Linked DNA regions of Homo sapiens: region 2 is linked to region 1. A link means that fine-mapping ties the variant in region 1 to the expression of a gene that starts in the linked region. Tissue or cell type: whole blood. Region 1 holds a variant in brackets; the other region holds the start of a gene. All regions are shown on one strand. Distances are between the middles of the regions.

What was found. PIP is the estimated chance that this variant, and not a neighbour inherited with it, causes the effect.
Region 2: it holds the start of CARS2, and the variant in region 1 is fine-mapped to the expression of CARS2 in whole blood (TOPMed, PIP above 0.99).

Annotation. Positions count from the first base shown.
Region 1 is chr13:110,676,186-110,684,363 of GRCh38, reverse strand. CARS2 (cysteinyl-tRNA synthetase 2, mitochondrial) reads left to right here. Exons shown (of 15, transcript NM_024537.4): 6 at 1,230-1,313; 7 at 7,261-7,390. Among named protein-coding and RNA genes, the nearest start is that of CARS2, 26 kb to the left of the region's middle. RefSeq lists an enhancer at 7,693-8,178. The variant T/C (reference allele first, on the strand shown) is at 4,578.
Region 2 is chr13:110,701,154-110,709,331 of GRCh38, reverse strand. It overlaps CARS2 (cysteinyl-tRNA synthetase 2, mitochondrial), which reads left to right and starts at 3,216. Exons shown (of 15, transcript NM_024537.4): 1 at 3,216-3,462; 2 at 3,761-3,811; 3 at 7,777-7,894. The coding sequence starts at 3,239. RefSeq lists enhancers at 2,289-2,408, 2,419-2,798 and a silencer at 2,849-3,408.

The DNA.
Region 1 (8,178 bases):
TCCTTGATCTTACCAACACCAGTGTCCGCAGTAAGGACAGTACTGATGCAAATCAGTAACTGCATTAGTAAAAAAGAATGTGAAGACTCAAACTTTGTAAAGGCTAAAAGTTGCACCCACGCCTGGGGCCTGAGGACAGCTACATGCTGCTGTGTGGTTGGAGGGTGCTGGATGGTGGCTGCGGATCTGTGGTACTGAGAATGGCCATGGTCACAGCCCGGATGAGCATTGCCTCCTTCCTAGGGAGACACATGGCCTGGAACACACAGCGGCTGCAGCCGGGCAGCCTTGGAGCATAGGTTGGTAGTGCTTTCTTCTTGACAAAGCTCCCACTCTGAGTGCCTCCTCCCCAGCTCTGCTTTCTTAGGCTTTGTGGTGGAAGGGGCAAGGGCAGCCCAGGCTTGCAGGAGGCTCTGGAGAAGGTTCTGACCTCAGACTGCAAAGCGGACCTTGGCACTCAGCCTCACAGACACTTCAATATGCAGATGATTTTTTTGTGTGTTTTTTTTGGTAGAGATGGGGTCTCACTATGTTGCCCAGGCTGGTCTCGAACTCTTCAGCTCAAACAATCCTCCTGCCTCGGACTCCCAAAGTGCTGGGATTGGAGGCGTGAGCCACTGCACCCAGCCAGATGATGTTTTCAATCTGAGTAAAAAGGTAGTTTTAGAAGATGACTGGGCAAAGAAAGAGTGTCTTTGCTAGCTGGTGTGTAACATAAAGTAAAGAAAGAGTGTCTTTGTTAGCTGTTGTGTAACACAAGGCACAAGATCTAAATGAAGGTCAGTGATAACACTTTTCTTTTTTCTGATTAAATAATTGTCTCAGTAGTTTACAGAGAACTTACATTTGTGTTTTCACTTTCACGTCTGTGTACTCATGATATGTCCAAATCATGCATTTATCTTATAGTATTGTTTTTAATTCTGGTTAACAAATATATTAAGCCAGGCATGGTGTCACTCCTATAGCCCCACCTACTGGGAAGGTTGAGGTGGGAAGACTGCCTGAGCCAAGGAGTTCAAGGCTATCGTGAGCTGTGATTGTACCACTGCACTCCAGCCTGAGCAACAGCAAGACCCTGTCTATAAAAATATAAATACTATATATGTATATGGGGCCAAATGCTATGTTCTGTATTTAAATTCTAATTACTTGTTAGATGTTAAGGTTGTCAATATGCTGATATTCAGACTGAGAAGTGATGAATTCATAATTGTCTTTATAAACAGGCAATGTCTACTTCGATCTGAAGTCTAGAGGAGACAAGTATGGCAAATTGGTCGGCGTGGTCCCTGGTCCAGTCGGAGAGCCAGGTGGGTTGGCCGGGCTCAGCCCTGTGGGTCCCTGACCTCTGCCTCGGGTCTCAGCTCTGGGGAGATGAGATCTGGAGCGCAGACCCCTCCACTTGCTCAGACACTGGCCTTACCCAGGTCACAGCTGTGTTTTAAATTTAGTGTGGTTTCTGTGGATGGCTCCAGCTTGTGAGGCATATAGTTCAAACGGCAAGTGGGGCATCGTCCACCCCCGCCCCCAGCGTGCCTGGCTCCATTCCCTGGAGACAGTGCTGGTCACTGTCTCCTTTTTCCTCCCCAGGGTTTTCAGCGCACATGAAAACCTCATACACGTACATCATATTTTCGCGTTCTTCTGTGTTACCGTACATTTAATTCCCATACGTGTCTTACTATGTGTTAAACTTCCAATCTGTTTGAATCTCTTCCTTGCTCTATTCTGTTCCAGGGAGTTATTAGGTCAAAACATTTTTATGGAGAAGAAATAGTAAGCGCAGTATATGGAACTAAATTTAAAATAATTTGAAAAGGATACTGTCTAAGGGAATCAAACAAGAATAACAGGGACAGACCCCAAAGACTGTTCAAGGTATTTCTGGTTTTAGGCACTGTCTTTCTGCGCCATAAACTGTGCCAATGAATCCTAACCATCCATAGCACTGACCCCTCAGGTTCTTTCCTTCCCCCGCCGTGGTGCCCTGTCCCGCTCCCCGCACAGGCCGGAACACAGACGCCCACATCAGCCACGTGTGAGGCGTGGCTACCAGCAGGCCGTGTGGGCTTTGCTTACACATGTGGAGGAGAAGTTTCTGAGAGTTGTACATTCTGGCATCAGGAAGGTTTTTTAAAATTATTTATTTAATAGATTTGCTTTTTAGAGCCATTTTAGCTTCATAGCAAATTTGAGAGTAAGGTACAGAGAATTCCTGTCTACCTGCTACCCTCCACACCGCCCCCCACACTGTCAGCATCCCCCACCATTGACGCATCAGCTTTGCCCAGAGACCAGAGTTGGCATCAGGGTTCACTCTCGGCACTGTGTGCTCTGGGTTTGGGTGAATGTATAGCGACATGTTTCCACCATTCCAGCATCACGCAGGATACTTGCACTGCCCTGAAAAATCCTGTGTGGTCTGTCTGCTCATCCTTCCCTCTTTCCCATCCCTGGAAATCACTGGTCTTTCTACAGTCTCTAGTTTTGCCTTTTCTAGAATGTCATATAGTTGGAGTCATACACTGTGCACCCTTCTCAGAATGGCTTCTCTCACTTAGGAATACACAGTAATTTTCCTCCGTGTCTTTTCATGGCTGAGAGCTCGTTTCTCTTTAACACTGAGTCACGTCCCAGTGTCTGAATTTACAGCAGCTTAAGCACTCACCTACTGAAGGGCATCTTCGCTGCTTCTGAGTTTTGGCAATTATGAATAAAGCTGCTGTAAACATCCACGTGCAGGTTTTCAGCTCATTTGGGCAGATACCAAGGAGCACAATGCTGGGTCCTCTGGGAAGAGGCTTATTTGTGTCAGAAACTGCCCAGCTTCTGCCAGAGTGGCTGCACCATTTTGCATCCCCACCAGTGAGGAATAAGTCCCTGTCGTTCCACATCTTCACAGCAGTGCTTTTTAAAATAAAAAATATTTTCTTATACAAAAGCAACATATTTATATAATTTATAATGGTACAAAATTAGGAAATAGAATTACACAAAACAAAGATAATAAAACCACCATTTTTACATATGGTGAAAAAAAATTTTAATGCCTTAGTGTATGTTATTTCCAAAGCAATGGTGTTGTCTTTTTAATTTTCAATTTAAATTGTTGTAATAACACAACAATAGAAAACACCATTAAAAAATGTCCAACTTGGTTGAGCATGGTGGCTCACACCTGTAATTCCAGCACTTTAGGAGGCCAAGGTTGGAGGATCACTTGAGGCCAGGAGTTCAAGACCAGCCTGGGCAATGTAGTGAGACCCCTTGCTGTCTCTACCAAACAAACAAAAATGCCCAGCTCAGTGAATTTGTGTTCAGTGGAGACCCTGCGGTCACCCCCTAGTGGAAGGAGACAACAATGGCAAGGGAGCGAAGGCACCTGAGTCCTCCGGGTCCCACGCCCTGGCCGATAACCTCCCGGGCCCTGCCTGCCAGCCTCTCTGCCCTGCCCTGGGGGCAACTACTGCCCTAACTCTGACAGCGGCCACCTCCTCATTTTTCTGAATGGGTTTATTGCCCAAACACGTGTCCCTTAACACGACACTTAGCCTTAGCTGTTCTATATTTGTGTCTTGTTTTTAGTCCACATGTTCCTCCCCTGGCTTCTTCCCCTTGCTGCTCATTTGAGGGAGAAACGTCATGTGTCTCACGGTTCCCCCAGTGGGATTTCGCTTGCTCTGAGTTTTGGAGTGTCTGTAACATTTCCCTCTGTCCTGTGTGTTTTTTTGCAAACTGGTAGTTGAATGTAGAGGCTTAATCCAGTTCTAAATTTCTGGAGAAGGCTACTTTGTAGATGGTGTATTCCTCACCAGGAGACACGTAAGGGCTCTGCCTCTGTGTGTCAGCAGCCCTGGCCGCTCTAGGCTTAGATCCTTCACTGCAAAAAGAGGTGGCATGGTGGTGCAACTCCCATTCTGCTTTATTTGCTGGAATACCTTTTTTGTTTGTTTGTTTGTTTGTTTTTTGAGACGGAATCTCACTCTTTTGCCCAGGCTGGAGTGCAGTGGCATGATCTCGGTTCACTGCAACCTCCACCTCCCAGGTTCAAGCAGTTCTCCCTGCCTCAGCCTCCAGAGTAGCTGGGATTACAGGGGCATGCCACCACACCCAGCTAATTTTTGTAGTTTTAGTAGAGATGGGGTTTTGCCGTGTTGGCCAGGCTGGTCTTGAACTCCTGACCTCAGGTGATCCACCCCCCCCCCCCCCCCCCTCGGCCTCCCAAAGTACTGGGGTTATCGGTGTGAGCCACCGTGCCTGGCCCATTTGCTGGAATACTTTTATACAGGCAGACTGTCATCTGGTTACTCAGTGGTACAGTTTGTATAAGAAAGGCAGGACCTTTTCCTTAACTTACCAGTTTTCAGAACAAGGAGTTGGCTTCCATATTTTCCTCTGGCAGTGACCAGTTCATGTTCTTCCGTTGCTGAGAGCTCGTGGGCTTCAGTGCACATGCCGTTTTAACCCATTGCTGCCATCACCTTATTGAGCCTCGGCGTGCCCCCTCTTTTGCTGGTAGCAGCTACTCCCGAGTCCCTTACACTCAGCCCTGTTGTAGTTAATAGTTTTGTGGC[T/C]GTCTATCTGATATGGTAAGATATTCCTGGCTCATCTTAAAATAAGCTGTTTCTCCTGGAAGTCCCATTTTTCTCTTTTCTTTCTTCCCTTTTCTTCCCTTTCCCTCCCTCCCTCCCTCCCTCCCTCCCTCCCTCCGGTCACGCCCGGTGTCCCTCCCTCCCTCTCTCTCTCTCTCTCTCTCTCTCTCTTTCTTTCTTTCTTTCTTTCTTTCTCTCTCTTTCTTTCTTTCTTTCTTTTCTTTTCTTTTGTTTTTTTGAGATAGAATGTCACTCTTGTTGTTCAGGCTGGAGTGCAATGGCGCGATCTCGGCTCACTGTAACCTCCGCCTCCCGAGCTCAAGCGATTCTCCTGCCTCAGCCTCCACAGTAGCTGGGATTACAGGCACCTGCCACCACACCCGGCTGATTTTTGTATTTTTAGTAGAGACGAGGTTTCGTCATATTGGTCAGGCTGGTCTCGAACTCCTGACCTCAGGTGATCCGCCCGCCTCGGCCTCCCAAAGTGCTGGGATTCTAGGTGTGAGCCACCGCGCCCAGCTCCCATTTTACTTTTAATGGGAAATGGTGTTTTGAGAACACAGCATGGGCACCATGGATACTCATTGTTGCCATCTGTCATTGCCGTCTGTCATTGTTTCCTGGCCTCTCCCATAGACTGAGGTAATGAACGCATCTGCTCCGTAGGTCACACTGATACTCAAATTCAGGGCCACGGGGTTTCATTAACCCCTCTGTCTGTTCACATGTGTGGTAAGGACAACGGGCGTGACCGGATGACCAGTGGGCATCCACCTGCTTTAGTCCATCACGGACCAGCCCTGCCCGAGGCTTGACCACGGTTAGAAGGTTCCCATGCACGTGCCTCCTCCCCGCCCCGCGTGTCCATATGTTGGAGTGCCCAGCCTCCGCCTGCGCTGCCTTCTGTAGCCCCGTCCACTCTTCCCCCCTCCCACCGTCTCCAGGTCCGCTTTTTCCCTGTTGTTTTTGAAGCTCATTCCCCAGCAGTTTCTGAAGGAAGAGCCCTTTCTCGGGAACAGTATTCTCTGCATTTGTGCCTGTGGATGACAGTGTGCTGCCTTCTACTTCAAAGTCAGTTTGGCTGGAAATACAGTCCTTGGCCGCATTTTCTGTCCTTAAGTATTTTCCTTCGGCATAAGGTGTTATTGATGCTCTCGTTTGCCATGCACTATGTAGGAATTGTTCTGTTTGCTTGGGTGCCCAGAGGATGTTATTCTTAGTAAAGTGACTAGTAATGAAAACGTAGCCTGTCCAGTCTGACCCAGAAAAAGTATCTGTGTCTGCACTCTTTAAATTCATCAAAGGTGATGGACGCCTGTGTCAGTGCTCCCGGGTGGAAAGGGTGATATTGGGACGTTGTGCACATGGGGTGTGCCTGTCCTGGGCAGATGGGACAGCAGGTTTTGGTGAGCATGCGCCACTGGCAGCCTCACCGCACGGTGATGGGCACCTTGCTCAGAGTCTCGGGTCCATAAGCCGCGTTACCTGACACGATCACGCGCCTTTCACTCTGTGTGATTAGTATCTTTTTGGAAAAAACAACCCTGAAACTCAGTTACTGATAAGCAGAGTATTTCTCGTAAGACAGAATAAGGAAAAATGGGAAAACCCCACCTGGTCCACAGTACATTCCTGAGAAATGAGCCTCTGTGGGTTCCCGGCCGCCCAGCTCTCCCTGTGCGCTGGTGCATCTGAGGTGAAAGCGTTGCCGGTGCTCCTGTCCCTCACGTGGGTGAAACAGGAGTGAACGAGAAGCCAAGGCTCCTTCGAAGAGACACAGCCTGGGGCGTGCTGCCCACTGGCGGCTGGAGGGGCTTCCACCGGGGTGGCCGGCTGGATTTCCCTGGTGGGGGTGACCAGCTGAGTTTCTGTGGTGGGGGGTGACTATCTGGGCTTCTGTGGTGGGGGTGAGGTGGTGGTGACAGCCTGGGCTTCCCTGGTGGGGTGACAGTCTGGGCTTTCATGGTAGGGGTGACTGTCTGCGTGTCCGTGGTGGGGTGATTGTGTTTCCATGGTGGGGGTGACTGTCTGGGTTTCCGTGGCGGGGTGGCTGTCTGGGTTTCCGTGGCGGGGTGGCTGTCTGAGTTTCTGTGGTGTGATTGTCTGGGTCTCCCTGGTGGGGGTGACTGAGTTTCTGTGGTGGGGTGACTGTCTGCGTGTCCGTGGTGGGGTGATTGTGTTTCCATGGTGGGGGTGACTGTCTGGGTTTCCGTGGCGGGGTGGCTGTCTGAGTTTCTGTGGTGTGATTGTCTGGGTCTCCCTGGTGGGGGTGACTGAGTTTCTGTGGTGGGGTGACTGTCTGCGTGTCCGTGGTGGGGTGATTGTGTTTCCATGGTGGGGGTGATTGGGTTTCCGTGGTAAGGGTGACTGTCTGGGTTTCCATGGTGGGGTGATTTTCTGTGTTTCCGTGGTGGGGGTGACTGGGTCCCCGTGGTGGGGGTGACTGTCTGAGTTTCCATGTTGGGGTGATTTTCTGTGTTTCCGTGGTGGGGGTGACTGGGTCTCTGTGGTGGGGGTGACTGTCTGGGTTTCCATGTTGGGGTGATTTTCTGTGTTTCCATGGTGGGGGTGACTGTCTGGGTTTCTGTGGTGGGGGTGAATGTCTGAGCATCCGTGGTGGGGTGACTGAGCTTCTTCCCACTGATGTACCGTTTGTCATCTGCAGCGGACTCTGACAAGCGTCATGCCAGTGACTTCGCCCTGTGGAAGGCGGCCAAACCCCAGGAGGTGTTCTGGGCCTCTCCCTGGGGACCCGGGAGGCCGGGCTGGCACATCGAGTGCTCTGCCATCGCTAGGTAAGGTGCCTGCCGCTTCCTGGGGGTTGGGGCTCAAGTTCCCCTGGTGCCTGCTCAGGGCAGCAGAGGATGTGCATGGGAGCAGGTGCAGCCTGGCACGTGTGCCCATGGGTGATTTTTTGGGAAGAGATTTTTGCCGGAGTGTGACGGGCCATGGAACGGGGTGAACGAAACCCATGACACATCAAGCTTTCCTGACCTCAGCACTTCCTCTGTTTAGTGGAGAGGCTGCTTTTTGGTTCACACTTGCAGCTGCCCTGTTCCCTCACCCTTCTCTGTAGTGGCTGGTGCTTGGGGCCCTGGAGGAGAGTGCTTGCACCTACATCCCTCCTCGCTTCGCACTTCTCTAGCCCCCAAATCCCTCTCCGCCTTCCCGCCAGCTCTTCTAGCTCAGGCAACTCGCATGCCAGGGTGCTCTGTGGCGGAAATCTCCAGCTCCTCCCAGATCTTCCTGGAGTCCCCCAGCCACCCTCATGTGGGTCCTCTGTCACCAAAGCTCCTCTTCCCACTGTCTGCCTGGGACCGCAGCTGCCTGCCGCCCCCACTCAGTCACACGACACTGCTCTCCTGGCCCACTGCGGCATCCCCTACTCTGGAAACACCCTCTCTGTCCTGGTTTCTGCCTCTCAGTAGAGCTTTCTCCGCCTTCTCCCTGGTCCCCTTGGACGCACCTGAGGTGTCCACACCCTGTGGCTCTGCCCACAGCCAGGGGCACCTTGGGTGGGGTGTGTGAAAGACAGCATACCGCCCGTGCCCCGTGCTGCACAGCTGCCCATGGGGCTCGCCAC
Region 2 (8,178 bases), 25 kb before region 1:
ACCTGGGGTCGGGAGTTCAAGACCAGCCTGACTAACATGGAGAAACCCCATCTGTACTAAAAATACAAAATTAGCTGGGCATGGTGGCACATGCCTGTAATCCCAGCTACTCAGGAGACAAGCAGGAGAATTGCTTGAACCCGGGAGACGTGAGAAAGAGGCAGGAGAATCGCTTGAACCCAGGAGATCACGCCATTGCACTCCAGCCTGGGCAACAAGAGTGAAACTCCATCTCAAAAAAAAAAAAAAGAAAAAAGAGAAAAGAGAATTGGCCAGGTGTGGTGGCTTAGGCCGGTATTCCCACCGCTTTGGGAGGCTGAGGTGGCTGGATCACTTGAGGTCAGGAGTTCCAGAGTCCCAGACCAGCCTGGCCAACATGATGAAACCCCATCTCTACTAAAAATACAAAAATTAGCTGAGCGTGGTGGCACGCACCTGTAATCCCAGCTACTCGGGAGGCTGAGGCAGAAGAATCACTTGAATCTGGGAGGTGGAGGTTGCAGTGAGCCGAGATCGTGCCACTGCACTCCAGCCTGGGTGATAGAGTGAGACTCTGTCTCAAAAATAAATACATAAAAATAAAAATAAAAATGCAAAAATTAGCTGGGCACGGTGGTGTGCACTTGTAATCTCAGCTACTGTGGAGGCTGAAGCAGGAGGATTGCTTGAACCAGGAGGCAGAGGCTGCAGTGAACCCAGATCAGGCCACTGCACTCCAGCCTGGGTGACAGAGCAAGACTGCCTCAAAAAAAAAAAAGAAAACATAATAGAATCACTGCCAGTGAGGGGCTAAAAACATTACATGAATTTTCTGAAGACAGAAGATACTATTGTTAATTTAAAAGTTGTGATGTTCTATGAACAATTCAAATATACCGCATGTCCAGATTCATGTGCAGATTTGATCTTCAGTGTTACTAAGCTGCTTTCAGAATCTCTGCTCCAGTTATTTCCTTGAATTCGTGTGTTCTCACAGATTGCAACTGAGCTTTTTGTTAATTTGCTTTATTTACTGGCACATCTAATATCTGAATCAGCTTTATCAGGTATTTTACTACCCAGATTTCTTCCCACCTGCACAATTAATCCCTTTCGTAAGGGATTAATTCATCAACATTCAACAAGCCCTTTTATTTCTTCTAAATTTTTTTTTTCCAGCCACAGCAAAACAAAACAAACAAAACCCAAGTCCTTTTCTGAATTTAGTGCAGGGCACAGTGAGAAGTTCAAAATAATGTACAATTTAAGATACTCAGGGAGATAAATATACACACAGCACTGGAAAGTTACAAAATAACATAAGGCAGGCAAGAAGTGATAATATTCAGGAGAATTTAGAGTAGTTAGGTAACATGAGTGGTTAGCATTGATGTAGGCTATAGGGTCTCCTAATTCTAACATTTTAACCTTATTAAATTAGACAATAGATTACATTAGACTACAGTTAGCTTGAAACAGAATTGCAGAGTTGGACTCCAGGATATTGAGAAACTACTCTAGGTACACACTTGTTTGTCTCTACTTAAACCTTTGCTTTTTAATAAAACACCAAAGCAAACTAAAAACAACAACAAAAAACCAGAGGAACGTCTCCTGTTTTGAGAACTGGAAAAGCAAAGGGGACTTTTTCTTTTTTTTGAGACATCGTATTGCAAGACACCAATAGAGGCACTTTTTTTTTTTTTCAGGCGGAGTCTCCCTCTGTTGCCCAGGCTGCAGTGCAGTGGTGTGACCTCAGCTCACTGTGAGCTCTGCCTCCTGGGTTCAAGCGATTCTCTTGTCTCAGCCTCCCCAGTAGCTGGGACTACAGATGCACGCCACCACGCCCGGCTAATTTGTGTATTTTTAGTAGAGACGGGGTTTCACCATATTGGTCAGGCTGGTCTCGAACTCCTGACCTCAGGTGATCCATCCGCCTCAGCCTCCCAAAGTGCTGGGATTACAGGTGTGAGCCACTGCGCCTGGCCCAATAGAGGCACGTTTGTCAAGCTATTGTGAGTAACTTTCAGAATGTTTTTGTTCTCAAGATACGGGATCATGGTGGGGGAGGCATGCTGTGTATTGGAGTGCAGACATGGTGTGTGTTGGGTTGCACACTGTGTATTGGGGTGCACACTGTATTGGGGTGTAGATGTGTGGGGGCGCACACTCTATTGAGGTGCACATTGCATTGGAATGCAGACAGTGTTTGCTGGGATGCACATGTGCTGTGTTGGGGTGCACACTGTACTGGGGTGCAGACATGGTGTGTGTTAGAGTGCACAGTGTATTAGGGGTGCACACTGTATTGGGGTGTACACTGTACTGGGGTGCAGACATGGTGTGTGCTGGGGTGCACACTGTATTGGAGTGCACACTGTATTGGGATGCTGATGTGGTGTGTGCTAGGGTGCATACTGTGTATTGGGGTGCAGACTGTATGCTGGGTTGCACACTGTGTATCGGGGTGCACTGTGTTGGGATGCTGATGGTGTGCTGCAGTGCACACTATTGGGGTGCAGATGTGTGTGCTGGGGTGCACACTGTATTGGGGTGCACACTGTATTGGGATGCTGATGTGTGTGCTGGGGTGCATACTGTGTATTGGGGTGCACACTTCTTGGGGTGCAGACTGTGTGTTGGGTTGCACATTGTGTATCGGGGTGCACTGTGTTGGGATGCTAACGGTGTGCTGCAGTGCACACTGTATTGGGGCGCAGATGTGTGTTTGGGGTGCACACTGTATTGGGGTGCACACTGTATTGGGGTGCTGACGTGTGTTCTGGGGTGGACACTGTGTATTAGCGTGCTGACGTGGGCTGTGCTGGGATGCACACGTGCTTCGCTAACAGGCCAGGGCCCGGCAACAGAAGCTTGCACTGTAAACGCTCCTCCCGCGCGGCGGACACAGCTCCAGGCTGGTACCGCGCGCACACGGACGCCTCGCAGGACCTGGGCTAATAAGGAGAGGAGATCGGCACGGTACCGCCTCTTCCCACGGCCTCCCGGCGCGGCACCGCCCTCCTCCCTCCACCCCGGGCCTTCCCCGCCCCAACCTCTTCGGGCCCTGGTTCTCCACCCTTGCCGCGGGCGACTCGAGCCAGGCCAAAGGGAGGCGCTACCTGAGGACTGCTTCCGGGAGTGGGCGTGGCCCCAAGGGCGTGGGCGGGGCGGGGCGGGGCCGTGCTGCTCTTGAGCGACCGGCAGCGTACCCGGCGTGGCTCCCGTCTCCGCCCAGTCGTAGGCGCTGGCCGCTGACATGTTGAGGACTACGCGCGGCCCAGGCCTGGGCCCCCCGCTGCTCCAGGCCGCGCTGGGCCTTGGGCGGGCTGGGTGGCACTGGCCTGCGGGCCGGGCGGCGAGCGGGGGGCGCGGGCGGGCCTGGCTGCAGCCCACGGGCCGGGAGACGGGTGTGCAGGTGTACAACAGCCTCACCGGGAGGAAGGAACCCCTAATCGTGGCGCACGCCGAAGCCGCCTCCTGGTGGGCCGCGCGGGACTGGGGCACGGGCGGGGGCCGATCGTGGCGGAGACTTCCCACGGCTGAACGGGATCTGGGCTCGGGGAGGGCGTTTAGGAAGCTGCATGGAGGGCGCCGTTCTAGAAGCTGGGGGTGCGCGGTGCTTTTGCAGGTTTGGGTGTGAATTGAGCAAGTATGAAAACCCCGGCTATTCATCCCCCAGAAGTGATTACTTTAAAAATTATATGATCATTATAACTCAGAATCGAATGTCCTTTCTTGCAAATATGTTCCACACGATGGATTTTAACTTTGTTTCCAGGTATAGCTGTGGACCAACTGTATATGATCATGCGCACCTTGGCCATGCTTGGTGAGTTTCCTGGATTTGAATTTTCATACTTCAAAGGACCATTTATTTTTGAAAGCCTTTTGCTGATTTCTTTTATCTCTTAAGTGGCAACTTAGGGATGCAGAATAATTCCTACATTCCAGGCATTGTGGGAAATGTTACAACCTCATTTGGTTCTTATAGGGATTCTGAGCACTTACACCCGTTTTACAGGTGAGGAAACTCAGGGAGACAATGGAGCACTGAAAAATGACCCGTTTTGGAACTAGATGTTTTTTGCTGGGTTTAGTGACATCAAGAGGCCTTTGCGGGGTCCCGGGGTCCTGCTGATCAGTCATTCCTGGGCCCCACCACTTCTTAGCTTCACAGCACTGAGCAGGTCACTTTATTGCTTTGAGTCCTGGTTTCTTCATCTTTGAGATGGGAATGATAACTTGGATCTTATAACAATTTTAGTAAATAATGCCCATAAAATGCTGCTTAACACTGTACCTCACATGTGAGATGTCACGGGGCTCAATAGTGATTGAGTAACTTTCCTAAGATGACACATTGAAGAGGTATTGGAACTGGGGTGAGGCTTGGTTTCTCTGACTGCGAAGTGGTTGCTCTCTTGACCTCTTTAACTGTAAGATGTACTGCCTCCTACATTTGCCAAAATTACCACTTTTCCTAATATTTTGTACATTTCCAAAATATAATGTACAAAAATGACATATTATAGATTTTTTAAAACTTAGTATTGTTCAGTCCTAGACTAAAAGTAAAAAGTTACATTTACTCTGTATACTTTTTTTTTTTCTTGAGACGGAGTCGCTCTGTCGCCCAGGCTGGAGTGCAGTGGTGCAATCTCGGCTCACTGCAACCTCTGCCTCCCAGGTCCAGTTGCCGCCTCCTGGCAGCAATTCTCCTGCCTCAGCCTCCGGAGTAGCTGGGATTACAGGCATGTACCACCACGCCCGGCTAATTTTTGTATTTTTAGTAGAGACGGAGTTTCACCATGTCAGCCAGGCTGGTCTCGAACTCCTGACCTCAAATGATCCACCTGCCTTGGCCTCCCAAAGTGTTGGGATTACAGGCATGAACCACCATGCCCGGCATACTCTGTATACTTTAAATATACATTTTTCCCCTTTACTTTGGGCTAACATACTTTTAATTATCAAAAGCATATTTCGACATCTTTCTTGAATTATAAAATATGTTGGGGAAATATTAAAAACAAAACCCCCACCCTGGAAAACCTTTCCACAAAGGTAGAAGAGAAAGAAAACAGTTCTGTTACTGAATAAGCCTTAAACCAGAAGGGGATGAGCTAAAATAACTGCAAAGACAGAAAGAAATCTCATCCTTCTATGGAGCTTTGGGGATACAGCCTGTCTCAGTCTATGAGTCTGCTGTAACAAAATATCCTAAAATGGATGACTTATAAACAACAGAAATTTCTTTCTTTCTGGGGCTAGGAAGTCCAAGATGAAGGCACCAGCAAATTTGGTGTCTGTTGAGGGTCTGCCTGCTGTGTCCTCACATGGTAGAAGGTAGAGGGAATTCTCTGAGGTCTCTTCTATGAGGGCATTAACCCCAGTCATGAGCTCTCTGCCTCCATGACTTTGTCACTCCCAGAGGCTCCACCTCCTAAAACCGTCACCTTGGGAGTTAGGGTTTCAACCATGAATTTGGAGGGAAGACAAACATTCAGACCATAGCATAACCCATTGCTTCAGGTGAGTTACAGTGTGGAGTCAGATGACAAGGTAGGCCCATCTCCTCCCAGGACACTGGGAAACGGGGCGTTATTTTCCTTGATTACATTTCAGAGGTGGGTCCCAGGTTTTGAAATTTTCTTGAGTTGTAAAACTGCCAAGAGGTTTATTTAGCCATTTAAAAGATTGACATGCATTTGAAGAGGACTGAGGAAGAAATCCTAAAAGTTGTTGGGGAGAGAATCTCTTCTCATTTCCAACTAGGAGAGTCAAGTCTTGCAGTTTAAATTTGTATAATATTTACCTTTATGACTACAGAAAAGAATACACATCTTAAGTGCGCAGCTGAATGCATGTTATAAGCTGTGTCCACACAGGGCCTTCCCAGGGGCTGGTGGGAGCTTGGGACTCTCCTGTTGACCACCTTCCTGTCAGCCTGGCCAACCCCTCCAGGCCTTTGCTGGGCTGGCCTGCCCCACCTCCCTCTCCCCATCTCAGCTCTCCTAGCATTGTACTCCTTCAGTGGTTATTTATGCAACCATCTGATGTCGTTAGCATGATGTAATTATTTCAGCTCCAGCAGGACAGGGATGCACACAGTGCCTGCTGCAGAAAGGTAGAATTTGAGCAATGGGTAGCACTCAGTTCACTGGAAAGAGACACCCTGAAAAATAGCCTCCACCATTTCCAGAAGAGGTCAGAGGGATGGAAACCCTGTTTGGGGAAAACAAATAGATCAGTTTGGTGCTAGGGGGGAGGAGCAGGGGAAGGGATGGGGCGTCAGTTGCAGCCAGACTGGGGAGGGTGCTGCGTGGTCTGGCCCAGAGAGTTTGGATTTCATGCCATGGTAGACGGAGTCACACTGGAGCGTTTTGAGGGAAGACTCTTAGCAAATGAATCATTTCAGCGATCACCCAGATGAGCACACTCACCCAGTGGATGGAGAAAATGGGGCAGAAAGAGCCGGGCTGACGGTAGCATGGTTCATGGTGGAGTCACAGAAGCAAGCTGAGGTCTCCTGATGCCATGTTCTTCAGACTTGGCTGCCCGGCACTTGCAAGGCGTGTGTGTGCGTGTTTGTGTATAGAGTGGCCCCTGTGGTCACAGCCTGCCTGCAGCGTCTCAGGGTCTCAAATTGCTCATGACCCTGCATTCCGCCAGCTCTGCCAAGCTGTGGAGCCTCTGCTGTCTCCAAGGGCAGTTCCGGGACTCAGCCTGGGCTCCTCTGGGCCAAGCAAGGGACTTGACTCTTGTTTTCATTTGCTTTAGGTTCCTGTAATTTTTTTCTTGTAAATCTCACATCTTTTAGACTCTTTCCCAACTTGAGGTGAATGAAGGAGCATGGTGATGAGAATGGTAATAATAGCTTGTGTTTTTAGAATTCATGCTGCACAGGCGGTAAGGCTGGACAGCAGTCCTGTTAGGTGGTGGGATTTTGCCAAATTTATAAGCAAGCCGACTGAGCTGTAAGAGGTTAATTATCTTGTTGAGTTTTGGAGATAGTTTTGTCCCTGGAATCAAGATTTGGTCTCAGCTGTGTTTGGAGAGGGAGGGGGTGTGTGGGAGGTTAAAGTGATACAATAACATGGCTAGGATTCCCCCACACCACCCTAAGAGAAAACAATTTTACGAACTGAAATTTAGGCCACATGGATAGCAGAGGTGAGTGTGACATTAGATAACCTTGAGTTTTAAGGTAACTTTTATGGGAAAACAGATTCTTGAGATGCTAAGTAGATTTTAAACCCTTTTAGTTTTACAAGTCTGAATTACCCCAGTGTAGTATATAAATAAGCTGGCATTTTTAAATATTCTACACTAGTGTGTGCATTCTTAGGAGTAATCTTATATGGCTTTAATGGGATCGTACTTGTTTTGATTTGGTATTTGCTTCTGTTTTGTCATAGTGAAAAATTAGAATTACTCTAGAACATGAACAAGAATGGTGAAAACACGATCTTAACTGAGAGATTGTATTATGAGTGAATTTTTATACAATTAAATAGACTTCAACTCACTTAAGCAACAACTCCAAAATTAAAAATGCTAATATTGTGTCCTGAAATTGATGCAATACCTTTGTCAGTTTCTCCTGAGAACCCTTGTGGCGCAGGCCCTGGTGCCATCAGTGAGAGGGAGTTTCCTTGTACCTGCTCCGCTGACCTGTCCATTGTGCTACACAGTAGAAGTTATGGAGCAGCATGTTAAAATGTAATGGATTTTTTACAAAGATAACTGATGACTTTGTGTAATAAAGACATCCTGACACTTTTTTTCTTTCAGCTCATATGTTAGATTTGATATCATTCGAAGGATCCTAACCAAGGTTTTTGGATGCAGCATAGTCATGGTGATGGGTATTACAGATGTAGATGATAAAATCATCAAAAGAGCCAATGAGGTAAGTGGAGAAGAGTTACATCTATTGATAATGCCATTGATTAGTGTTCTGAGCCCTTCCTGAAAGTGGTTCTTGGCCGGGCGTGGTAGCTTACGCCTGTAATCCCAGCACTTTGGGAGGCCAAGACAGGTGGATCACTTGAGGTCAGGAGTTTGAGGCCAGCCTGACAAACATGGTGAAACCTTGTCTGTACTAAAAATACAAAAATTAGTCAGGTGTGGTGGCGGGCTCCTGTAATCCCAGCTCCTCAGGAGGCTCAGGCAGGAGAATCGCTTGACCCTGGG